Linked DNA regions of Homo sapiens. The protein of the gene in region 1 interacts with the protein of each later gene in a pairwise test. Each region holds a gene or a part of one and is shown in the gene's direction. Other genes may lie near its edges. The genes, in order: CNOT7, TNRC6C, PATL1, SCARA3, LSM3, TCP11L1 and PSMC2.

Region 1 (3,500 bases):
TATTTGATAAAGGTGTACTTACCCATGATTAGAACTAAAATTGTTTTCTTAACCAATGGAAATTCATAGTGATCATTGATTTCTCAGATGATAAAGAGTGGCAACATAGAGAAGTGATAACATCCTACAAGAGTGAGTAGGTGGCATGCAATTCTTGACAGCATGCTTTCTGTGGACTATAGAGAGAATATTGTTTAAGCCAGAGAAATTAGGAAGCTAATGATGTTTTTCTTAGGGTTTTGGTGTTGAGAAAAACCTTGTGTCAGAGAAGCAATTGGAAAGTACAGGGCGTTTTCCCCTCTTTTGAACCAGTTCTTCAAGAAACTTGGTTTTAGCATTGGAATACTGTGAGCATCATTTCATGTATCCTTTGGGAGACAGGAATTTATGATTTTCCCCCCTTTCTTGGTTATAGAGTAAGTATTTGGTTAAATTTATCACATGTATCTCGTATAGTAACTTTTTGGATATATTTAAGGAAAGGTTATTAAGTTTATAGAGTTTTATGGTTCTAAAAAGTGATGTTCTTTCTAGTTAAAATATACTTTGTAATTGAATATAAATGTGTAGAATATCATCTGTAGGATTCTTTGATTTGCATCAAAAATTAAAAATGTGTGGATTGTAGTTTTGACTGTTTAGTACATAATGAATCTTAAAACTATTTTACAGGACACCGAGTTTCCAGGTGTGGTTGCAAGACCCATTGGAGAATTCAGGAGCAATGCTGACTATCAATACCAACTATTGCGGTGTAATGTAGACTTGTTAAAGATAATTCAGCTAGGACTGACATTTATGAATGAGCAAGGAGAATACCCTCCAGGAACTTCAACTTGGCAGTTTAATTTTAAATTTAATTTGACGTAAGTGGGAAATAACTGTATAACCCAGACTTTTTTTTTTTTTTCTTTAATCTTAGGAATTGATTTTCCTCAAGTATGGTGACATGCTAGGTGAATTTGGTGTAGTTATCCTGGAAATATATAAAACGTAACATTTCAAAAGCGTGGTTTTCTTTTTTACTATGGGACCAAAAAAAATACTTTGATGTTAAAGATGTTATATTTAAAATATGACTGCAGCTTTTTTTGTATTTGGAAGACTGGGTATTGAAAGTACTTCTGATAGAAAAAATAATCCTACATTAGTTTTACTTTCAAAAATTTTGTGTGCAATTTGAAATATAGCCTTTTATAATATTTATCCTTCTTGTGAAGATTTTTGTTGCATTCATATTCCAGTTTATGAGTAGATTACATGTCAAATGCAGTAAGACGTTTTCTGGAACCTTGGGTACGTTTTCCTTTCAAGTCAGTATTATCATTAGGTTGCCACTTCAGCCCACAAAAGCTCTCTTAATTTACATATAGGAGAAGTAGTAGTATCCTTGAACCTGGTGTTTATCATATGTCAGAATCTTCATTCTAACTCAAGCCCTGGGTCTTCACCCAGTTTCCTTAGTTATAATATTTCTGTATTATTAATAGAAGTAGTCTTGATAGCTAAGGGAAGTTTTAGATGTTTTTAGAGAGGGGCAGATTATTTGCAAACTAAGTTGGGTAAATAAAATAATACATTCTTATTACAGCAGGACCTCAAATGACATTTTCTTCAACATTGTTTCATGGTAACCTTCATAAAAAATAAAATTGATTCCTGACCCGGGCCACTACCTGAGTGGAGTGTGCACGTTCTCGTGTATATGTGGATTTTCTCCCGGGTCCTCTGATTTCCTCCCACATCCCAAGGCTGTGCACGTTAGGTGAAATGGTGTGGCTAAGTTGTCCCAGTGTGAGTGAGTAGGTGTATCTGTGTGAGTGCACTGTGCCACGGAACGACATGCTGACCAGGGTTGGTTCCCACATTGTGCCCTGAGCTGCCAGAATAGGCTCTGGCTTTCTTCACCCCTCAACTGAATAATGGAGCAAATAATTATCTTGTTTTTATTAATTGTTCTTAAATTTACATATAGCTCACATTTATTTCATTGTTTAATATTAGAAGTATTTTGGTCTTTATCTAGAAGTTTGATGATTTTTTTGTGACCAGAAATATGCCGTAGGAACTTAACTCTTGTTTTTATCAATTAGCCTGTGGTAAAAATTGGTTTCGTTATCCATCTTTTGGCTTAAAGTTGCAATTTCCAAGAACTTATTGATAACGTTGAGTGAGTACTTAACTGTATGTTGCAATATTGCATTGTTCTTCTGTTTGACATCCTACATTTGTGTCATACATCCTAATATCTGGTAGGTAAAATAGTGAAAGAAACTGTAGGCAATTAATGGTAGTGCCAATGTATGAATTCTTTCTTCCTGTTCTTTGTCAGATAAACAAAGATATTTAGTATACACAATTTTACGAAAGTAGGGCTTAGGAAAAGCAGAGTAATGATGCCTGTGGTATAGTAGTGTGGCTTGTAATTACACTGTGTTTAGCCTGACTCTCCATTTCACTCTTTTGGGTTTAATAATATACTCTCCATTTGGAGACCAAGGCAGGAGGATTGCTTGAGGCCAGGAGTTCTAGACCAGCCTGGTCAACATAGACTCTGTCTCTACAAAAAAAAAAAAAAAAAATGAAACTAAGCCAGGCATGGTGGCTGTGTACCTGTAGTCCTAGCACTACAGGTACAGGTACAGGTAGCTAGCACTACAGGTACAGGGAGGCTGAACCAAGTGGATTGCTTTAACTGAGGTGTTCAAGGCTATAGTGATCTAGATTGCACCACTGCACTCCAGCCTGGGCAACAGAGTGATACTTTGTCTCTAAAAATACCTGTATCTATACACACACGCACAGTCTACAGAACCTTGTAAAGTAAACTTGTCCAACCCTTGGCCCAGGATGGCTTTGAATGCAGCCCAACAGAAATTCGTAAACTTTCTTAAAACATTATGAGATTTTTTTGTTGTTGTTTAAGTTAGTTTATTTAATGTGTGGCCCAAGACAGTTCTTTGAGTATGGCCCAAGGAAGCCAAAAGATTGAACACCTCATTTATAAAGGGTGCAAAGTACTCCACTCAAACTGAAAACCTTTTATAAGAACTACATCTGTGAAACACTGAAAATTGCCTCCTATCCTTTTTCTCAAATGATAAACCTTTATTAAAATTAGTGCTTTACCATTTCATTTGTTCCATGTTAACTTTTTGTTCAAGTGAATTAGAACATTGTTTTTAAATTAGATACTATTGTGATCTCAGTACGTGAGAAGGAGGTAACCCATCAGCTTCTCAGTTTGGATAAAATTGACAGTTTCCTTTTCTAGAAACACCTTTGTTCGAGTAACAACTGCTTTCTTAGTACAGCCTGTAAGTGACATTTTTTCTTTCTTACTCAAAAATGACTGCTAAAGTTTACTACCAAGTTTTGCTACCATTTACACTAGGGGTGTCTAATCTTTTGGTTTCCCTGGGCCACACTAGAGGAAGAATTGTCTTGGGCCACACATAAAATACACTAATGCTAACAATAGCTGTTGAGCTAAAAAAAAA
Region 2 (3,500 bases), on another chromosome or scaffold:
AAGGAACTCACCTTCAGAAATTAGACACTTAATTCAGGGATCAGATGGGTTTTTAATCAGACTGCTCTGCCGCCTGATTTGTATCACATTTAAACATAAAAATTAAAAATTTTGAAAATATTTTTTCAATAGAAGAAAGTATATAGAAAATAATATAACTGTGTTCACAATAGAGATTTAACATAATATCATGCCATATTTGCTTCAGGGCTCTCTATTTTAAAAATGTTATAGGTATCATCCTCTAACCCCATTCTGGTCCCCATCCCACCCCCAGAGGGAACCACAATTCAAAAATTGTAGTGTTGTGTCACTTTCATCTACAGTGTGACATTAAAGTGCATTTCTTGATTATTAATGAGGTTGATTATTGTTTCATATGTTAATGGCTTATGAGTTTTCTCTTTTCTAAATTGCCTGTTCCTATCCTTTTCCCATTTCTGGTTGGGTTGTTGGCCTCTTTCTTACCGATTTTTAGGATTCTTTTTTTTTTTTTTGAGATGGAGTCTCACTGTGTTGCCCAGGCTGGAGTGCAGTGGCACAGTCTCGGCTCACTGCAACCTCCACCTCTTGGGTTCGAGTGATACTCCTGCCTCAACTCCCAAGTAGCTGGAACCACAGGCGTGCACCACCACACCCGGCTAATTTTTGTGTAAGTAGAGACGAGGTTTCACCATGTTGGCCAGGCTGGTCTCGAACTCCTGACCTCAGGTGATCCACCTGCCTCGGCCTCCCAAAGTGCTGGGATTACAGGCGAGAGCCACTGCGCCTGGCCGGGAATTCTTTAAGCTGATAACCATACATTATCTGTTGTATCTTCTCCCTGCCTGTGGCTTGTTTTTTTAGCTTTCATTATATGATATCTTTTGTTATATAGATGTTTTTAATATTAGCATAGTCAAATTTATCACCTGTTTATGTCTTACGTATTTCATGTCTTCTACAAGATGATACAATGTCCAAGGTCATAGAGATGGTCTCCTTTGCTTCCTTAATAAGCTTTAAGAAGTTTTGCTTTTCCTAATTCGCTCTTTACTTTATCTGGCATGTATACGATATAAGGGATCTACTTTCATTTCATGTGGCTAGACAGTTGTCCAACAGCATTTATTAGCCACCAGCTTATAATGCTATCCTTCTTTCAAACGTGTCATATAATTGAGTATGAACCTGTCAAATTGGGGGCTGAGCAATCCTCAAGTCCTCAAAGTAGACCATTAACAAAGGGCAGATCATTTTACAGTGTGACTGTTGTGGAATGGAACCAATAATACTGTGTATTCGAATGGCACCTCACATATGGAAAAGAATGCATTGGTCAGCCAGGTTGTTAACCCCCTGCTTTCTCGGTGTGGGTTGCAGTGAGTGCTGTCTTAGTCAAGAGGCAGCCTGCCTTATGGCACAACCTGTCCATGAGGGAACCCAAACTGATGGTAAAATGAAATGTGGTAATATTTGCTGGCAACAAGCCATAATCTCTGTGTGTTAACTTGGTCTTATTTTCTGTGTTAAATGAGGAATGGCTTATTTATCTCTTTAGTTAGTTATTATATTAGATAGTTTTTAGAGTATGTGCAAAACCAAATTGTCATAAACCAGGGTTATAGAGCCAACCCCTAATAATTGGCAGTGAAAAGAACCTAGTCATTTTATAGCAGTTTCAACATTTAAAGTTTTCTGTTGCCTGTCTTCATTTTTCCTTTGTAGTTTTCACCTGGAATTACGTACCTACTTTGAAATCACCTAGAGCATAATTCTAAAATCATTACATTACTCTTAAATCAGGCAATAAAAATCTCTTTTAGGTTGATATTAGCTTTAGTATGGTCTTTCTAATGCTAATTTTTTTTGCACACTTCCTTTTTTTCCTTTAGCTCCATCAAACTTTAAAAGAGAATTTATGTGGGAAATTCATGTTTTAATTGTCCATACGATTTTTCTTGTTAAAATAAATTTGAAGAGAACATAATTAAAAGGATCTAAAAGAGAAGAAAATATTTTATTGCAGTTTATTTGTATATTGTAGTATTTAGAGAAACTCACCAAGGATTTCTAAATCACATATGTGAGTTTGTTGTATGTTTGGGTTAAATTATTTTTTTAACATTTCTTTTACTTTATTTTTTAGTGATACATACTTGGAATAAAGTCTGCCAAAAAGTTGATCGAAATATAAGTTTGACTGCAATGTTGGAAATACTCAAATAATTGTTAAAGTCATAGGAAATAAAATGTAGATCCAAACAGGGGATTCTTTAAAAGGACCCGAAGAGTTAAATACTATAAGAAGATGGCATATAAAGTTATTCTAGGGATCTCCAAAGAAAAGGCTCTAAAGAAATAGAAAACAAGGATTGAGAGAATCTTTAGAGATCCAAAAAGATAGCACTTGTGGGGCTGAGATTCTTCTTCCTTCTTTTTCTTCTTTTAGTGATGTCCTTGAGCTACAGATTTTTTTTTTTTATTATGAATGTGCAGGAGACAGTGATAAACCAAATTGCAGATAAGATCAGATAAAGTAGTATACAGCTAATTAAACATTTCTAATCCTTAGTATTTTTGATAACATAAGATAGCATTGTCTCATATGTCTTTTCTCTCTTTCCTTCCGTCACCACTTCCCCCACCCCAAATATTGGTTCTGTTATGATTCTGCAATGCAATTTACAATTTTTTTCTACTGAAAGCCATGTTTCGCCTCTATATAATACTGTAACCTAATTAGAGGTCTTAAAGAGAACTACAAGTTTTATTCAAAACTCTACGTGAACTTACTGTCATTGCCAGTGTTTCTCAGTCTCTGTATTTATAGGAGTTGCAAAGTCACTTATCTTTCAAAGCTGCCTTTACTACAGATGCTTTCAGAGATGCTGATGTGCTAACGTGCATTGTGAGTATTCTCCAGGGGGAATAATAGTACAGTGTAGTGGTAAGAATTGATATAATTTTAAAAACATTAACGCTCTTTAAAATGGGATCTATTAAGAAGACAAATAGCTTTTTTCTTTAAGTCATTTTTTTAGTGTTTGTCATTCAGATTTGAAGACTTGAAATAAAGAGCTTCCCCAAAGACTAGTTAACAGTTGATTCATTGACAAATGAGTAGAAAATCTAATTTTGAATTTTGTTTCATCTTTTTCAGATCTCAGTCATAGTGGATTGGCAGATCATTATGAAAATTCCCACTGGGGACAGCAGCCTACTTACAGAAGCGAAGCCAACTGCAGCTGGGATAAAGTGATAATAGATAGGACTGACAAGGAGGCGTGGCCTTCCATCACAGGAACAGAGACTGAATCTGCCTCAGAATGTACTACAGACACTGACTCTGCCTCCAACTGTGGCTCAGAGAACAGTAGCATGGCTACAGGGAGTGCCCAGGGCAACTTCACTGGACATACCAAGAAGACAAATGGCAATAATGGCACCAATGGCGCACTCGTCCAAAGCCCTTCTAATCAGAGTGCCCTTGGAGCAGGGGGAGCGAACAGTAATGGAAG
Region 3 (3,500 bases), on another chromosome or scaffold:
GGCTCTTTTGGAACCTTGTTCCCCAGCAGCAGATAAGTCACCCAGAGAGTATACAACATTTCAGACTCTGTATGTTTTCCTTTTTTGTTAGCCCCAACCAGGAAGTCTGAATTCCAGTATCTGGGATGGATCTGAAGTTCTGAGGCGAATCCGAGGACCACTGCTTGCTCAGGTATTAAATATTTTCTCTTTACATAAAATTTATAATATCCAAAAATTTTAAGTTCCTGTCGTCATCCTTTCCTTACTGAAGGGGTTTATAGGTCTTTCATTTGCTAGAATTATGTCGACTACTGCATCCAGCACTTAGCTATGCCTTTCTTTAGCCTCCAGGGTAAAGGTTGCAAGGGAGCCATTGGAATTTAAATTTGTTAGTGTATGATTGTGATTTGAATCACTTAAAAAGTCATATCTGAGCCAGGCGTGGTGGCTCACGCGTGTAATCCCAGCACTTTGAGAGGCTGAGACAGGTGGATCACTTGAGGTGAGGAGTTCAAGACCAGCCTGGCCAACATGGTGAAACCCCATCCTTACTAAAAATACAAAAATTAACCAGGCGTGGTGGTGGGCACCTGTAATCCCAGCTACTCAGGAGGCTGAGGCAGGAGAATCACTTGAACCTGGGAGGCAGGGCGGAAGTTGTAGTAAGGCAAGATTGCGCCACTGCACTCCAGCCTGGGCAACAGAGTGAGACTCTGTCTCAAAAAAAAAAAAAACTCATTTCTATGCAAAACTATAGGGACAGAGAGGTCATCAGTGTTTACTAGTGGTTGGACATGGCAGGAGGCGTTAACTACAAAGGAACAATACAATGGAATTTCTGGGGAGTGATGCAACTGTTCTTGCTCTCTCTTTCTTTCTTTTTTTTTTTTTTGAGACCAGGTCTTGCTGTGTCAACCAGGCTAGAGTGCACTGGTACAGTCATAGCTCTCTGTAACCTTGAACTTCCGGGCTCAAGTGATCCTCCCACCTCGGCCTCTTGAGTAGCTGAGACTACAGGTGCATGCCACCATGCCTGGCTTAGTTTTTTTATTTTTGTATAGATGAAGTCTCGCTGTGTTGCCCAGGCTAGTCTCAAACTCCTGGCTTCAAGTGATCCTCCCACCTCACCCTCCCAAGGCGCTGGGATTTCAGGCATGAGCCGCTTACCAAACTCAGAGAACCATATACCAAAAAGTGAATTTTACTATATGTGAATTAAAAATAAATAAAAAGTTAAAAAAATTTCTTAAGGTATTTTTGGCATCTGTAGAGATTACTAAAACATACCAAGTTAGTTAATTTCTATTTTATTTTACCACTTCCTCAATTAGGAAATGCCTACAGTGTCTGTATTAGAATATGCTTTGCCTCAGAGGCCCCCCCAGGGTCCAGAAGATGATCGGGACCTTTCTGAACGAGCATTACCAAGGCGGTCAACTTCACCTATCATTGGCAGTCCTCCTGTTAGAGCTGTCCCCATAGGCACCCCACCTAAACAGATGGCTGTACCCAGCTTCACCCAACAGGTACCTCTCATTAACAAGCACACAGCCCAGGATATTGGGAATCTGGGCAAAATTATTTGGAAAATTGGTGATGTTGGGTGGAGGGTGGAAATTTTGGGTAGGCATTAGATTAGAAAGAAAAATAGCTAGTTAGAGGAGAAATTAGTACAAATAAGAGACACATTCCCTGATACCCTTTGCTGCTGCTATTGCTGCTGCCTTTTAATTGGGGGAGAAAAAAGGGTAGTTAGCCACATTTAGCACATATATCCTTTTTGAAGTGTTTTGCTGGCTGCCCAAAACATTGTCAGAGAGATAACTGAAAGCCGGGGGGAGTGGGAACACACAGCATTGTCCACATCCCTTTTTACCTTTAAGATATCCCTGCTTTCCCTAGAGCCTGTGCAGTCCTGTTCCATAGACTTTCCTCCACCTGAAACCAGCAGCTGAAAAGGAAGGCCAATTTGGAAGGTATGGGGGGAGGGTGGTGTTGGTATGGCCTAGTTAGGCTCAAATCCTATGAAATGGTGGAGTCACAATGTATCACAAAAGTGCTGAGCATGGCGGCCATATCACAGGGGCTTCAGAATAGGACTTAGTTAATCCTCCAGCTTTCTTATCATTCCTTCTCCCTCAGTGCTACCAAAATATATCCTCTTGGAGAGAATTTGCAAGTCAGAATATCTGCTGGTATCTCCCTCAGACAGCATGGAAGGGTGGGGATAACTGGAGAATTAGCTAAATCTTCCTCAGTTAATGCTGACACTTTACTTGATTTGTGAGAGAAAGTGGCCCAAGGTTCTGTATTTGAACCTGTAGCCATAGCAATTTGCTTAGAAGTAGGGCTTTGCATTGAGTTCGTGTCTCTACCAGTACTTGAGGGGAGGGAGTGTAGGTGGAAGAAAAACTGATTTCATTGAGTGTAGTTGTATATATGTTTGTCCTGATAGATTCTGTGTCCGAAGCCTGTCCATGTTCGGCCCCCAATGCCACCTCGTTATCCTGCTCCCTATGGTGAGAGGATGTCTCCAAACCAGCTCTGCAGTGTCCCGGTATGTCACTTTAAGCCTAACAAAAATGTGCAGTATGTATTTTCTGATCACTATTTGTAAGATCACTGCCAGTATTTAGATTTGCTGACATCTCCTAAATTATACCTATTTTTTATAATCTCCTTACTTAAATTGCTGGATCTAATTGTCCCCAGGTCAGAGGACAGTTGTTTCTTACATCAGCTCTTTTCTTACCTTTAAAAATCTAAACTCATTGTGATCATCTGGTTCCTACCATTTCAGTCCCATGTTCTACTGCTTCTTTTTCATGTCACATGGTCATGGTGTTTTTATAATTTCTAGCATTACTCTTTTTTTCTATTCCAGAGCTTGACTCTGTAATTTGAGAGTTTTTATATCCAAGTTTATACTGCATTTCTGCTGAGTTTCCTTATTATGATGTACCCCCTGTTTTATAGCATATTCTTTTTTTTTTTTTTTTTTTTACCTTAGAACTCTTCCCTCCTGGGTCACCCTTTTCCTCCTAGTGTTCCTCCTGTTCTCAGCCCCCTCCAGAGAGCACAGCTTCTTGGAGGAGCACAGGTAAGCCTGTGATTAGCCCTACCCATAAAGAACTCTCCTACTTTCCTAAAGTTCATTAGATAATAGCCCCTTTTTTTGCTGTTAATCACTACTTTTATTTTTGCCTTTACTTTTTCAAACAAAGTTATTGATGGAAAACCGTATTCACTTTTCTGTAGACAAAAGCAAGGGGACTTGCTGATTGTCTAAATCTAAGATCTTCTTCCTCTTTGTAGCTACAGCCTGGACGGATGTCTCCCAGCCAGTTTGCACGGGTCCCTGGATTTGTTGGTAGTCCACTTGCTGCCATGAATCCCAAGTTGCTACAAGGGCGAGTTGGGCAGATGCTTCCCCCAGCACCAGGCTTCCGTGCCTTCTTTAGTGCTCCACCCTCCGCTACACCACCTCCACAGCAGCACCCTCCTGGCCCAGGACCCCA
Region 4 (3,500 bases), about 10 Mb from region 1:
AAAAGTGAGGAAAAATGGCTTAAAAAGCAAATATATAATTATTAAGCCTGAGATGCACAATGAAGAAATAAGCAAGGCCAGGTGCAGTGGCTCATGTCTGTAACCCCAACACCTTGGGAGGCCAAGGTGGAAGGATCACTTGAGCTCAGGAGTTTGAGGCCAGCCTGGGAAACATAGTGAGACCCCAACTCATTTCAATTAAAAAAAAAATTGAAAATTAACTGGGCATGGTGGCACATGCCAGTAGTCCTGGCGGCACATGCCAGTAGTCCTGGCTACTTACGAGGCTGAAGTGGGATGATCACTTGAGCCCAGAAGATTGAGGCTGCAGTGAACCATGATCACACTGCTGCACTCCAGCCTGGGTGACAGAGCAAGACTGTCTCACAAAAAAAAAAAAAGAAAAAGAAAAAAAGAAAAAAGAAATGAACAGGTGAATGAATTATATGGAGTGGAGTGAGCCTCGGCTGTTGGCTTGGAAGTAGAATTAATGAAGCATAGGAATAGGAATCAAAGTCACTCAGTCTCTTTGTGTCTTTGTTCATCTATGCATGAAATCTTAATTGTAGGGAGGCTCAAATGGAATCATAACTATTGTAAACTGTACAGTGCTTGTCTCATGTAACAGCATGTGCTTATTCCCAAACTCTCTCAACATGTTGCTGTTACTAATTAAGTAAATCTACTGACAGCTCTGAGATGTACAATATTAACTGGAGCCTGGAGATTCCAAATAATTTGAAAGCATAGAATTTTGGTGCTGATGAGAGCCTTAGAGTCATCGAGCTCCACATTTTCATTTTACATATGATTGAACTGAGCTCAAGAAAGGGTAACTGACTTGCCCAAAGTCACCCAACAAATGTGATGTAAACTAGGACTAGAAGCTGTGTTACTCAGTGCTCTTGGTGGTGCTAATTCTTTCCCCTTGTACTTGACCTTAAGAGGATCTGTGGGAAGCATCTTGCTGAACCTCAGAACAACCCATGCCCTCCCTCACTACCAGGCCCATTCAGGCACCCGCTGGAAAAAGCCAGGCGTCCTGCTGCTGCCAAGACGTGCTCTAACCACTGGCCAACATGGCCCCCTTAGTAGAGTGCAAGGCTGCCCGTGGGGTATAAAGTGGTGTAATCTTTTCTGGGCAGCAGTTTGGCAGCTTGTATCAAGGACTTCAAAAATGTTAATACCCTAGGTCCCATAATTCTATTTTAAGCAATTTATCCCAAGAGAATTATCATATACACATAACCATCATATATAAGGATTATTTCTAGAATTAAGCATTACTTATATTTATATATCAAGTTTTATTTATGAGCTCAGAAGAAGAGGTACTTTAAGTGTCCTCAACAGTAGGAGATTCTTACATAATTGCTGTATTATTTATATAGAGTGCCATGCAGATACCAAAAGTAGTGATTTTAAAGTGATTTAACCCTGGATGGAAAAATGTCCGTGACATGATACTGATAAAGCAGCATCAAAGAAAACAGATGAGATGTTCAGAACATCCCAGTTTTGCTTTTGTTGCCTAAGAAAGTACAGTAGTCCCCGTTTATCCGCAGTTTCAGTTACCCTAGGTCAATCGGCAACATCATGGCTTGATGATCCCCCTTCTGACATATGGTCAAGGTCAGTAGTAGCCCAATACTAAGTCACAATGCCTATGTCATTCACCCCACTGCATCTCGTCACGTAGGCATGGTGTCATCTCATGTCAGCACAAGAAGAAGGATGAGTATGGTACAATAAGATATTCTCAGATACAAAGAGACCATATTTACATAACTTTTATTATAGCATACTGTTCTAATAGTTCTATTTTATTATTAGCTGTTGTTAGTCTCTTACTAGGCCTAATTTATACATTAAACTTTATCTTAAGTACGTATGTATAGGAAAACACATAGCATATTTAGGGTTCCATACACTGAGGTTTCAGGCATCCACTGGGGGTCTTGGAATGTATCCCCTGCAGGTAAGAGGGGAACACTGTATATATCTATGTAGCTGAAGAATGGTTATCAATGTAGACAAGACTAGAAGAAATCCATGAAGACACTGATGGCAGCAACCTTTGGGTGGTAGGAATAAGAATAATTTTTTTTTAATTTTTTTTCTGAATTTTCCCTGTTCCATTCTGTGATCAGGTCCTATTTCTAACATGTGGGGTGTGGGGTGAGTTATTCTGTTTCTAAAGGGCCTTGTGGCAAACTCTGGCCATAAGAAGTATCTTCCCTAACCGCCATGAAGAAGCCTGAGAGAAGAAGGGTGAAAGGTTTTGGTTGCAGAGGAGCTGATAAAGATGCCTTCTCAAGGAATGACTGCTGTTTCTCTGAGCTTAGACCCTGCCCCAGCTTCTCATCTGTTTTCCCTACAGTTTTCAGAAAAGTGGACTCTCTCTCCGAAGACATCTCCTTGACCCAGTCTATTTATGACAAGAAGCTTGTGTTAATGCAGAAAAATCTCCAGGGCCTGGGTAAGTAGATGGGCTGATGACTGTGATGCAGTGATCTTCAGGGTGGGGCAGGGGTGCCCTCCCCACGCTACAGTGCCCCAGCACCAAGCAACCTTCACCAGCCTTCTAGGCACAGAGGCTATCCCCAGCTCCCTGCTCCCTCCCCAGCCGGATCTCCATCCATTAGAGGAGGGCTGCTACCCTGGGATACTCCCAGGACTGGAGCAGGGGATTCTGGGTGGACCACAGATCTAGCCAGAGTCTACAGGCAGAGAAGGAAGCCAAAGATAGTCCATTCCCAAAATAGCCTCATGCATCTGAAATGATGAGAGTTTCAAGACCTTGCAAAACCTCCTGCCAGGTCAACCCTTTCCTCATCATTGCCTTAAGCTGTGCCACGATTCTTTTCTTTTTTCTTTTTTTTTAATATGTGCCATCTATTTATCTATTTCCATAATTTTAACTTTTGTTGTTATAGATTAAGGGACACATGTGCAGGTTTGTTACTTGGTTATATTGCGTGACACTGAGGTTTGGGGGGGTAGAAATGATCCTGTCACCCAGGTAGTGAGCCCAGGTACCCAATAGGTGGTTTTTCAGCCCATAACCCCCTCCCTCCTCTCCCATCTAGTATGCACTGAAGTCTATTGTTGCCATCTTTATGTCTACATGTATTCAACCTTTTTTTTTTTTTTTTTTGAGACGGAGTCTCACTCTGTCACCCAGGCTGGAGTGCAGTGGTGTGATCTCGGCTCACTGCAAGCTCCACCTCCTGGGTTCGTGCCATTCTCCTGCCTCAGCCTCCCAAGTATCTGGGACTACAGGCGGCAGCCAGCATGCCCGGCTAATTTTTTGTATTTTTAGTAGAGATGGGGTTTCACTGTGTTAGCCAGGATGGTCTCGATCTCCTGACCTCGTGATCCGCCCGCCTCTGCCTCCCAAAGTGCTGGGATTACAGGCGTGAGCCACTGCACCCAGCATCTACATGTATTCAGTCTTGCTCCCACTTATAAGTGAGAGCATGTGGTCTTTGGTTTTCTGT
Region 5 (3,500 bases), on another chromosome or scaffold:
ACTCCAGCCTGGGGGACAGAGTAAGACTCTGTCTCAAAACAAAACAAAACAAAACAAAAAAAAACCTATCACGTGTTACTGTAAGTAACATTTTTATGAACAATAACTATTTTCTAAAACAAAATTTTAATGAGGAATGTCTTTGTTTTACATTTTTGCAAATCTCTTTAATGCCCCGCTTAATCGATAACAGCTAGAAGATTCTCATATCTTTTTTCTGCGTTAAATCTATCATGAGTTGTTGTTGTAATTGAAGCAAATCTGACCACACAGATAGGTAGTTGGAAAGGAAGGAGTTTGTTTTGTGAATGTTCTACCTTTGATACTACACCCAAACTGAACAAGTGGTAGTCAGTCAAAGATTATTTGCCATCTGGAATCTGAAACGGTAACAGTAAACTTTTCGTACTCTTGTTAGGTGAAAATTCATTAATCTGCCTTGCACCTCAAATGGATCTCTTACTCATGCATGATTTGGTTACATCAGGCACTGGTTCTTTAGAAAATAGTAGTTCACTGGGCTATGCAGATTCATTTTATTTCTTCAGTGTTTAAAAAAAATCACATTTATTAGTTATCACCAGTGATCTTGTCAGAAAGGTCTTTTTTTTTTTTTAAAGACAGTCTGACTGTGTCACCCAGGCTGGAGTGCAATGTCAGTCTCAGCTCACTGCAGCCTCCGCCTCCCAGGTTCAAGCAATTCTCGTGCCTCAGCCTCCAAAGTAGCTGGGATTACAGGCATGTGCCACCACGCCCAGCTAATTTTTGTGTTTTTAGTAAAGACAGGTTTCACCATGTTGGCCAGGCTGGTCTCGAACTCCTGGCCTCCCAAAGTGCTGGAATTACAGGTGGGAGCCACTATGCCAGGCCGTAGCAGAAAGAAAGGTCTTTAAGATTTGGAAAGACAGTTTCTGACCCTGCCAGGGCATAGTGGTTAAAATGTGGGCTCAGAGTACAAGACTACATGGATTCAAATTTTGACTCCCTTGCTTACCACCTTTTTAATTGAGCCAGCTCACCTAACCTGTCTGTGGATATGTTTCCTTGTCTGTAAAATGGGAGTAATGATAGGACCCACTTCATACAACTGTGGAGGATTCATTGAGGGCTACATGAAAAGCCTTCAGATAGTGACAGGCACGTTGTCACTGTTAAACTGTTAGCCTTCACTGGATTTTGTAGTTCTGCTTTATCCTGGCTTTCCTCCTCTCTCTGACCACACCTGACTCCTTTGCTAGTGTTCTTTCTCCTTCTGAGTGTAAACATTTAGCATTTTTTTCTTTTTTTAAAATTTTTACTTATTTATTTATGTATTTTTGCTGGCTTATTTCTCCAAGAAAGAATAGCATTTTTTAAAATCTGCATTTTTTCCCCTTTAGGAATTTCATTTATTAACTATTGTTTAGTGGTTATTGTTTTCTTAACATGGACACAATCATAAGTACTAAGATGCACTTTTTCTTAAATTTTAGCATCTTAAAAATCTGATTGCATCTTACAGGTGATGTGATAAAAAAAGAATTGTGTCATAGTTTAATTGGCAAAATTTATCCTTTTTCAGCTCAACTAAGCTTACAAATGATACCTTAAATGTGATAAAATATGGAATATGTGGCTTTAATATTCTGCTTTATTCATGTAACATCATTAACATAAGAATTTTACCATGAGAGTAGACTCTTCATAAGCATTTTAATGCTCTTGTCTTGAATTCTGCTTGTGACAGAAATGACTCTTCAACTGTGGTGTCTATTACAGAGAAGGGAACACTGCCACTTACTCCATGTTTGCAGTGAACTAACAGCAGGGTCCACCTGTGTCATCCCTAGTAGTCTGCTCCAAGTGCGGTTCCTCCTGACACTGTTTGAAGGTGCTATGTGTCTGTGCACATGTGCATTTCTCTGGGTGGGGTGTCTGTAACAGAGTCTCAGTAGTTACTGACCTCCATTAAGATTAATTGCTGCCTTGAAAGGCTACTGGGGCTGGTTAGCTCCTGAACGCTGCGTGCTGCGTGCATGTGGCCTCTCTTGCGCCTAGAGTTGCAGCTGAGAACAGTAAGCAAAGTCTATTTAGTTAATGAGTTCTTTTTCACATTGCCATGATGTATTGGGTAAAACATTTAAAATTGAATCTTTGGATGACTGAGAATACTTTAGTGTGTAAATGTGTATTAACTATAGACATAGAAAGCAAAGACAGTGATATTATAGAGAGTGTCTGCATCTGGTTCAGTGCCATGGAGAACAACTACTTCACTCTCCTGTGCGCTCTTGTTACTCCTCTCCAAGATGGGAAACCAGACTAAATGGTTTCTTACCTTGGCCCATTTTACATTTCGCTCTCTCTCTCGTCTATTGAAATAACTAATGAACATCAACGTTTTACCACCAAAACAGTATGGGGGACCCATAAACCATCAGGTTGTTGGGTTTTTTTCCCCCTATAACTTACATAATTGACTTCTAAATAATTAATTTGGCTGCTGACTTATAAATGGGAAGGTGGAAAGCAGTCAGTCTTACTCTTCTGATTCTTGGTCCTCCATAATTGGAGTTTCCATTTTACAGATTGTGAACAGTCTGTGTTATTTGACCCAGACTACTTTTTCGGCTGTCCATCATGTGTACTACCTTCCTTCACCAAACACCTCGTAGTTTGGCTCACCAGACAGTTTCTCTTGGGGACGTTGTGCCCTTTTGTAACTAAGCCCTCTGCTCCCTCTGCTTGCCCGAAGGCCTTCTACAGCATCAGATGGCTCTTCTAGACCTTTCTGTAGATTAGCACTGTAATAATAGAACTGTCTGCAGCAGTGAAAATTTCTATCTATGCTGTCATTACAGGAGCTATGAGCCACATGTGGCTATTTGGCACTTCAAATGGATGCTGGTGTGATTAAGGAACTGCACATTTAATTTTATTTAATTTTAATTTAATGAGCCACCTGTGACTAGTGGCACTCATATTAGAGCAGCTCTAGACCTGCTCCCTCATACATAACTAACTCTTTATGGTCCATGCTGAGACCATATGGTCCATATCACCGTATAGTACTTAACACATATTTCTTTTCTTACTCATTTTAAATTGCTTCCATTTTAATTTAACTTTTTGAATAGATACTAGACTCACACAGTCTTAAAATTACAAAATGCAGAAAGGAACACAGTGCAGTAAAATGTCTTCCACTCCAGCCTCTGTTCATCATCTTTACACCCCACCCCCAGACATAAGCACTATTACTGGTTTCTTGAGAATCTTCTCGTGTCTTTATGCATATGCTAATGAGTGTTAGTTATTCTCCCTTCCCCTGTTTTTTTATCACAGTGCTCTTTCCCTTTCATACATAGCTTCCTTGTGCTTTCGTTTTTAGCTTTATGGTACTTCACTGTGTAGATGTACCATAATTTAACTGTTTTCCTGTTGATGGACAGATAGCCATTTCCAATATTTTGCTAGTAAAACCTATTCTGCTGTAAATAATTTTATCTTTATCTTTTTTT
Region 6 (3,500 bases), on another chromosome or scaffold:
TGTTGTGAGAGTACTGGGAAGAGTTTTTTCTTGTTGTTGTTGTTGTTTTCTTTGAGATAGAGTCTCCTCACTCTGTCACCCAGGCTGGAGTGCAGTGGCACGATCTCTGCTCACTGCAACCTCCGCTAGGCAGAGTTTTGTAGCCTGAAGAGCCGTAATATTAAGGCCTGGACCTGGAAGCTGGGGCATAGTGGAGGACTCACTGGTAGGGTGGAAGCAGCTACAGTGCCTGCATCTAGCACTTAACTCACAACATGAAAGCCTGGGTTTCCCAAAGCTGGGGGGTTACGGAGAATATTATCAGCAGAAGAGAGGGTGAAGCCAGATGGCCCAGGAGTCATGACCGAGAGCTCAGGGTAAACTGGAGCTGCATCCCCCTGCCCCAGTGAAGAGCAAACCACAGCTGTGACCTTGGCCGCCCACTTGGTTTTAAGGAAGCAGGAAGCCTCCACTAACAGAGCTGCAACACCTGCTGGGACCTGACAGGTGCAGTTTTTATCAGATGATGTGTGAGATCCTCCAGCTCTCTCTCTGTATCCCTCAGAGTGCCCCCTGCATTACCAAGCTTAGAAAAGCAGGGGTGCAGGAGGGCTGCTGAAAGCCAGATGGGGCTTCCCTGACAGAGTTCACTTTCCCCCAGGTTGAAAGGAAGCCAGATTGATACAAGGTTAAGATCTAAACAAGGAAAAGCCTCATCATCAGTGTAGAGGATACTTTACACAGGGAAACTCTAGCTGGTGTCTCATCCTATCTGTCTCTAGAGCTGGAGTTGCCAGGGCTTTGGGGTCCATCTCATGCAGTGGTCAGGATGGGAGAGAAGGGAAGGAAGGTTTGTTAAATACCAGGTGGGTGGCAAGGCCTGGCTAGGTGTCATGTATTTGTTACTATTATTATTATTATTTTAGACAGGGTCTAGCTCTGTCCCCCAGGCTGGAGTACAGTGGTGTGATCACCACTCACTGCAACTTTAACCTCCAGGACTCAAGTGATTCTCCTGCCTCAGCCTCCCAGCTAGCTGGGGCTACAGGCATGTGCCACCATGCCCAGCTAATTTTTGTATCTTTTGTAGAGACAGAGCCTTGCCACATTGCCCAGGCTGGTCTCGAACTCCTGGGCTCAAGCAGTCTTCCCACCTCAGCCTCCCAAAGTGCTGGGATTACAGGCATGAGCCACCATGCCTGGCTTATTCATTATCTTGTTTAATCCTCACAACAGCCTGTGAGGTGGGTGTTGTAAATTTGCCTATATCAGGCATCTGAAACTCAGACACATTATGACTTGCCTGAGATCCCTCAGTTAGTCATTGGCACTACTATGATTTGATCCAAGTTTTATTTGATTCCAAAGTTCATACTTTATACTTTATCACTCCACCAGGACATCGATTGTCCCTTAAGTAATTCCGAGAAGCATCCCTTCTTGGTGTCAAGGTAATGTGTGCAGCTTTGTTTTTCACAGATTCCCTGGACTTTGTCACCCAGTGGCTGGAAGAAGCCTCAGAGGACCTTATGACTCAGAAGTATAAACACGCCCTGCCAGTGGGGGGAATGGCTGCTGGCTCTGGGGACATGCCCAGGCTGAGCCCTGTTGCTGTCCAGAATTACGCTTACCTGAAGCTTCTGAAGTGGGACCACCTCCAGAGGCCGTTCCCCGAAGTAGGTCTCCTGAGCCATCTCACTACTCATATTTGTTTTTGTGCTGCTGAACTTTTTAAAAAGAATAGCTTTGGCCAGGCACGGTGGCTCACTCCTGTAATCCCAGCACTTTGGGAGGCAGAGGCAGGCAGATTGCTTGAGGTCAGGAGTTCAAGACTTGCCTGGGCAACATGGCAAAACACCCTCTGTACTAAAAATACAAAAAATTAGCTGGGCGTGGTAGCAGGGGCCTGTAGCCCCAGCTACTTGGGAGGCTGAGGCAGAGAATTGCTTGAACCTGGGAGGCGGAGCTTGCAGTGAGCCAAGATTGCACCACTGCACTCCAGCCTGGGCGACAGAGCGAGACTCTGTCTCAAAAAATAAAAATAAATAAGTAAATAAATAAAATAAAAAATAAAAAGAATAGCTTTATTCTGATATAATTCATGTACCAGAAGATTCTCCCTTTTAAAGTGTACAACTCAGTGTTTTCTAGTATAGTCACAGAGTTACGCATCCATTGCCACTGTTTAATTGAGAACATTTTCATCACCTCCAATAGAAACGCTGCATCCATCAGCGGTCACTGCCCTCCCCCCCTCCCTCCAACGCCTGAAGCCACAGATCTGCTTTCTGTCTCTATGGATTTGCCTATCCTGGACATTTTATTTAAATGAAATCATACACTACCAGCCTTTTGTGCCTGGCTTCTTTCACCAATGTTTTTTCACGTTGTAGCACATATAGCAGTAGTTTAGTCCTCTTTTCCACTGTGTTTTTTTTGTTGTTGTGGTAAAATACACATAACATAAAATTTACCATTTTAACCATTTCTAGTTGTCCAGTTCAGTGGCATTAAGTGCATCCACATTGTTGTGCAACCATTGCCACCAGCCACCTCCAAAACATTTTCATTTTTCCTTCTGTGAAACTGTCTTCCCACCAAACACACCAAACAGTAATTCCCATTGCCCCCGCCCTCTGGCCCCTGGCAGCCACCATTCTACTTTGAGTCTCTGTGAATTGGACTAATCCGGGTACTTAATATGAGTGGAATTATACAATCTTTGTCCTTTTGGGTCTGGCTTATTTTACTTAGCATAATGTCTTCAAGGTTCATTTATGTTGTAGTATGTGTCAGTGTTCCCTTTCTGGGTTTTTTAAAATTTTTTTAAATTTTAGAGACAGGGTCTCATTGAATTGCTCAGGCTAGGTGGTACGACAGCTCACTGTAACTTTGAACTTCAGGGCCCAAGTGATCCTCCTGCCTCAGCCTCCTGGGTAGCTAGGACTACAAGAGTGTACCACCACCCCCAGCTAATTTTTAAGTGTGTTTTTTGTGGAGACAGGGGTCTCGCTATGTTACTCAGGCTGATCTTAAACTCCTGGCCTCAAGTGGTCCTCCCTCCTTGGCCTCCCAGTGTTGGGATTACAGGCATGAGCTACCATGCCCAGCCCTCCTTTCTTTTTTAGGCTGAATAATATATTTTACTGTATGGATGTACCACATTTTGTTTATTCATTCATCAGTTGACAAACATTTGGGTTGTTATTATAAATTATGCTTCTGTGAATATTCCAGTACAAGTTTTTGCATGGACATATGTTTTTACCTCTCTTGGTTACGTACCTAGGATTAGAATTGCTGGGTTACATGGTGACTCTTAAGTTTAACATTTTGAGGAACTGCCAAACTGATTTCCAAAGCAGCTGCATCATTTTACCATCCCACCAGCAATGTATGAGGCTCCAGTCTGTGCTGCTGAATTTTTCTCCTGTTTTTACTCATCTTGATGGAAACCACAACAGAGGTGTGGTTGTTCACAGCTTTATCTAAAGAAACTTCTTCCCCTTCCATGCTGAACA
Region 7 (3,500 bases), on another chromosome or scaffold:
CATGCCATGCTCATTTAAAACTTATTTTTTTTTTTTGTAGAGACAGGGTCTTGTTATGTTGCCTAGACTGGTTTCAAATTCCTGGGCTCAAGTGATCCTCCCACCTTGGCCACCCAAAGTACTGGCATTTCAGGGGTGAGCTACCATGCCAGGCTCTTATTTTATTTTTAAACTTCTTGCACTTTAGTTTCTATCTATATAAATCAGTTGAAACTGAGCAGTAGTTTCTTAATTCCCAGATCTTTAGTATTTCTCAATCCTAATCCTTGTGTTTTTGACATTGTTGAGCCTTTGAGCTTCCCTTGGTTTCTCTTGCTGAACCTTCCCGTTTATCCGCCTGCTTCTTTTCTTTCCTTCATTGTGTCCTCACATGGCTTCTCTAAAGTTTTGTTTCTATTAATTTCATCCATTCTGGTCTTGGACTGTATGTGCTTCCCTAGTCAACCTTTTTAACCTCAAGCTAGCATCTGACCTCTAGAGCCAGATTTATCTCCGCCTTTTAGAATGCTGCATCAGGATATGCCGGTGTGTTGGATAGTCTTCATGCCTACCCTCAGGCTCAGTAATTTGCTAAGAGCATTCATAAGACTCAGCATGTAGTCATACTCATGGCTATGATGTATTTTAGTGAAAGGATACAAAGCAAAATCAGCAAAGAGAAAAGACACATGGGGCCAAGTCCAGGAGAAACCAGGCACAAGCTTCCAAGGGTCCTCTTCCAGTGGAGTCACACAGGATGTACTTAATTCCCCCAGCAACAGGTAGTGACAATATGTGTAAAATGTTGCTAACCAGAGTAGCTCGTTAGAGATTTGGCACCCAGGGTTTTTATTATGGGTTGGTAATGTAGGCATCTCTGCCTAGAACATACCAAAATTCTAGACTCCCTGAAGGAAGATAAGTGTTCTGCATAAACCCTGTAGTTTGTATAAACATTTTAAGCACAGTGAACCACCTTTTTCAGTTCTGGGAATGGTAGGAACCCTCTGAAATTGTTCTCAGACAAGAGCCAAGAACCAACCTTATAAGCAGGCCTTTCAAAGGATAGCAGTTAACTCTTCTGTGCAGATAACAGTACCACAAACTTAATAAAATTTAAACTGAACTTCGTATCTCCCTCTGCTAACCACTTTCTATTGTGACTTCTGTTGTGTGGTACCTAGGTCCAAAGCCTGGGCATCATGTTTGATCCTCTCCCGTCAGCTTCTCACATTTAGTCATTTGCCATGTGCTGTAGATTCTTCCTCTGAGGGTTTTTTTTTAATCCAACTCTTCCTTTCTCTTTTCATTGCTACCATTTTTATTTAGGTTCTTATGACTTCCGAGTGGCCTCACTCCAATTTGTTCTTCATATCTCAGCGAGCTAATTCTTCCTAAGGCACAGTTCCTATAATGTCAACTGTAGTGGCCCTGATTACCTCATTCTAGAATTTATGGTCTACTTCACTAGAGCCCCAAACCTCCATCTACTTAATTTCCTATTACCGCCTAATGTGTATACTATGTTTCAGCTTACCTGGTCTAGCTGCTGTTACCTAAGCATGCTTTTTCCTACCTCTACTCATACTTAGTTAAAAAAAAAAAAAAAAAAAAAAAAAAAAAAAGACCTGCCGTTTTTTTCCTTAAAATATGTACGATTGTATGATTGGTTCTTGTTTTTCATGATAGATATATTCTATAAAGTTGCTGTGAATGGTCAGTTGGGAAGTACTGAACATTTGATCCTAGGAGAAATATATATATACATCTCACATAGATTATAATCTTTTTTTTTTTTTTTTTTTTGAGACAGGGTCTCACTTTGTTACCTAGGTGGAAGTGCAGTGGCACAATCTCAGCTTGCTGTGGCTGTCACTTCCTGGGCTCAAGCGATCCTCCTGCCTCAGCCCCCCAAGTAGCTGGGACTACAAGTGCATACCACCATGCTAATTTTTGCATTTTTTGTAGAGACATGGTTTCGCCATGTGGTCCAGGCTGCTCTTGAACGCCTGGACTCAAGCAATCCGCCTGTCTCGGCCTGGGATTACAAGTGTGAGCCACAGCATCCGGCTGATTATAATCTTAAATCCTAAAAACAACTCATCCTGGTAGATTCATTTTTTCTTTATTTCACAAAAGAGAAAACAAAGTTCAGAAGTGTTAAGTGACTTGGCTGAGGTCACCCCACTAACAGATTCCAGAGCTGGCATTCAAACCCTGTCCACCTGGCCCCAAAGCCTGAACTGCTTGGATTACACGGCATTTCCCCTACGGTCTCCATCTTCTGGTCATCTCTGTATGAAAGCTGAAACAAGAGGGTAGAGTGACTTGTTCTTAGTTGTGAACTTAAATTTTTTACCACTCTGTCTATTTGCAAATGACCATGAAAGCACATGAGTATTGATTTGGGGATTACAAATAAATTTGAGCAGCTAAGCAAATTCAGAAATGCAGAATTTGTGAATAGAAAAGATTAACTGTAAATCACTTGAAATCCCAGATAACCACCGTAGAACACCATTTCAGGTTACTCTCCACATGTGTTTTAAGTGATTTTTATATAAAAACAAAATATATGCACATTATATCCTTTTTTTTAAACCTACCTGATTCACTGAATAGCATTTGTTGGATTGCTTTCTATGTCTATGTTCTGTTATCATTTTAAATTGCTGCATTGTATTTCCTTTTCTTTTTCTTTTTGAGATGGAGTCTCTCTCGGTCACCCAGGCTGGAGTGCGGTGATGTGATTTGGGCTCACTGCAACCTCCGCCTCCTGGGTTCAAGCAATTCTCCAGCTTCAGCCTCCTGAGTAGCTGGGACTACAGACATGCGCCACCATGCCAGGCCAATTTTTGTATTTTTGGTAGAGACGGGGTTTCGCCAGGTTGGCTAGGCTGGTCTCAAACTCCTGACCTCAGGTGATCTGCCTGCCTGGGCCTCCCAAAGTACTGGGATTATAGGCAGGAGCCACCGCACGGGGCCTGCATTGTATTTCATTGTATGACTATGGTATAATTTAACCAAGATCCTTAATGGATGTGTTTTATGTATGTACTATATAAAATAGGTCATCACGTATATTATGTACTTTTAAAAACCTATTTTCCTCCCAGTTAGATAAAAATTCCTTGAGTCCAGGAACTATTTGATTGAATATGTATCATCATAATCTTGCTTGATTTTTGACACTCACTTAAAACAATTTGAATCGAACAGAAAAAAAGCTCTAGTTTCTTTTTTAAAAATTTTAATTCTAGTTTCTTTTTGAATCTCACGTATTGTCTCTCTTCTTTCAGCTCTGGATGAGGGGGATATTGCCTTGTTGAAAACTTATGTAAGTCCTTTCAGTGTCTACAAACTATAGATGTTTTATGTTGAAATAAAAACTGTTTTGGTATTGTCCTTCCAAAATAATTAGAAGAAGTTAAGAAACCAAAAATTAAAAAACCAAACAAAAAATAAAATAAAAAGAAACAATTAGAAAAGAATGTCTGGCAGCTTCTAGTAATCTTCACTAA

Evidence for each region.
Region 2: the proteins of CNOT7 (region 1) and TNRC6C interact in binary tests that used the Homo sapiens proteins (3 or more experiments, as listed by UniProt).
Region 3: the proteins of CNOT7 (region 1) and PATL1 interact in binary tests that used the Homo sapiens proteins (3 or more experiments, as listed by UniProt).
Region 4: the proteins of CNOT7 (region 1) and SCARA3 interact in a two-hybrid assay, tested with the Homo sapiens proteins (one large-scale study listed by BioGRID and IntAct).
Region 5: the proteins of CNOT7 (region 1) and LSM3 interact in a two-hybrid assay, tested with the Homo sapiens proteins (one large-scale study listed by BioGRID).
Region 6: the proteins of CNOT7 (region 1) and TCP11L1 interact in binary tests that used the Homo sapiens proteins (3 or more experiments, as listed by UniProt).
Region 7: the proteins of CNOT7 (region 1) and PSMC2 interact in a two-hybrid assay, tested with the Homo sapiens proteins (one large-scale study listed by BioGRID).

Annotation. Positions count from the first base shown.
Region 1 is NC_000008.11:17,240,358-17,243,857, reverse strand, and holds part of CNOT7 (CCR4-NOT transcription complex subunit 7), read left to right. Parts: intron 1-235; exon of another isoform or gene 236-416; intron 417-672; coding exon 673-866; intron 867-3,500. UniProt on the Homo sapiens protein: Has 3'-5' poly(A) exoribonuclease activity for synthetic poly(A) RNA substrate. Its function seems to be partially redundant with that of CNOT8.
Region 2 is NC_000017.11:78,045,703-78,049,202, forward strand, and holds part of TNRC6C (trinucleotide repeat-containing gene 6C protein), read left to right. Parts: intron 1-3,142; coding exon 3,143-3,500. UniProt on the Homo sapiens protein: Plays a role in RNA-mediated gene silencing by micro-RNAs (miRNAs). Required for miRNA-dependent translational repression of complementary mRNAs by argonaute family proteins.
Region 3 is NC_000011.10:59,655,538-59,659,037, reverse strand, and holds part of PATL1 (protein PAT1 homolog 1), read left to right. Parts: intron 1-91; coding exon 92-172; intron 173-1,313; coding exon 1,314-1,508; intron 1,509-2,437; coding exon 2,438-2,539; intron 2,540-2,992; coding exon 2,993-3,082; intron 3,083-3,297; coding exon 3,298-3,500. UniProt on the Homo sapiens protein: RNA-binding protein involved in deadenylation-dependent decapping of mRNAs, leading to the degradation of mRNAs. Acts as a scaffold protein that connects deadenylation and decapping machinery.
Region 4 is NC_000008.11:27,654,402-27,657,901, forward strand, and holds part of SCARA3 (scavenger receptor class A member 3), read left to right. Parts: intron 1-2,380; coding exon 2,381-2,479; intron 2,480-3,500. UniProt on the Homo sapiens protein: Seems to protect cells by scavenging oxidative molecules or harmful products of oxidation.
Region 5 is NC_000003.12:14,185,317-14,188,816, forward strand, and holds part of LSM3 (U6 snRNA-associated Sm-like protein LSm3), read left to right. Parts: intron 1-3,500. UniProt on the Homo sapiens protein: Plays a role in pre-mRNA splicing as component of the U4/U6-U5 tri-snRNP complex that is involved in spliceosome assembly, and as component of the precatalytic spliceosome (spliceosome B complex).
Region 6 is NC_000011.10:33,060,072-33,063,571, forward strand, and holds part of TCP11L1 (T-complex protein 11-like protein 1), read left to right. Parts: intron 1-1,443; coding exon of another isoform or gene 1,444-1,458; coding exon 1,459-1,655; intron 1,656-3,500.
Region 7 is NC_000007.14:103,350,643-103,354,142, forward strand, and holds part of PSMC2 (26S proteasome regulatory subunit 7), read left to right. Parts: intron 1-2,087; exon of another isoform or gene 2,088-2,247; coding exon of another isoform or gene 2,248-2,284; intron 2,285-3,278; coding exon 3,279-3,316; intron 3,317-3,500. UniProt on the Homo sapiens protein: Component of the 26S proteasome, a multiprotein complex involved in the ATP-dependent degradation of ubiquitinated proteins.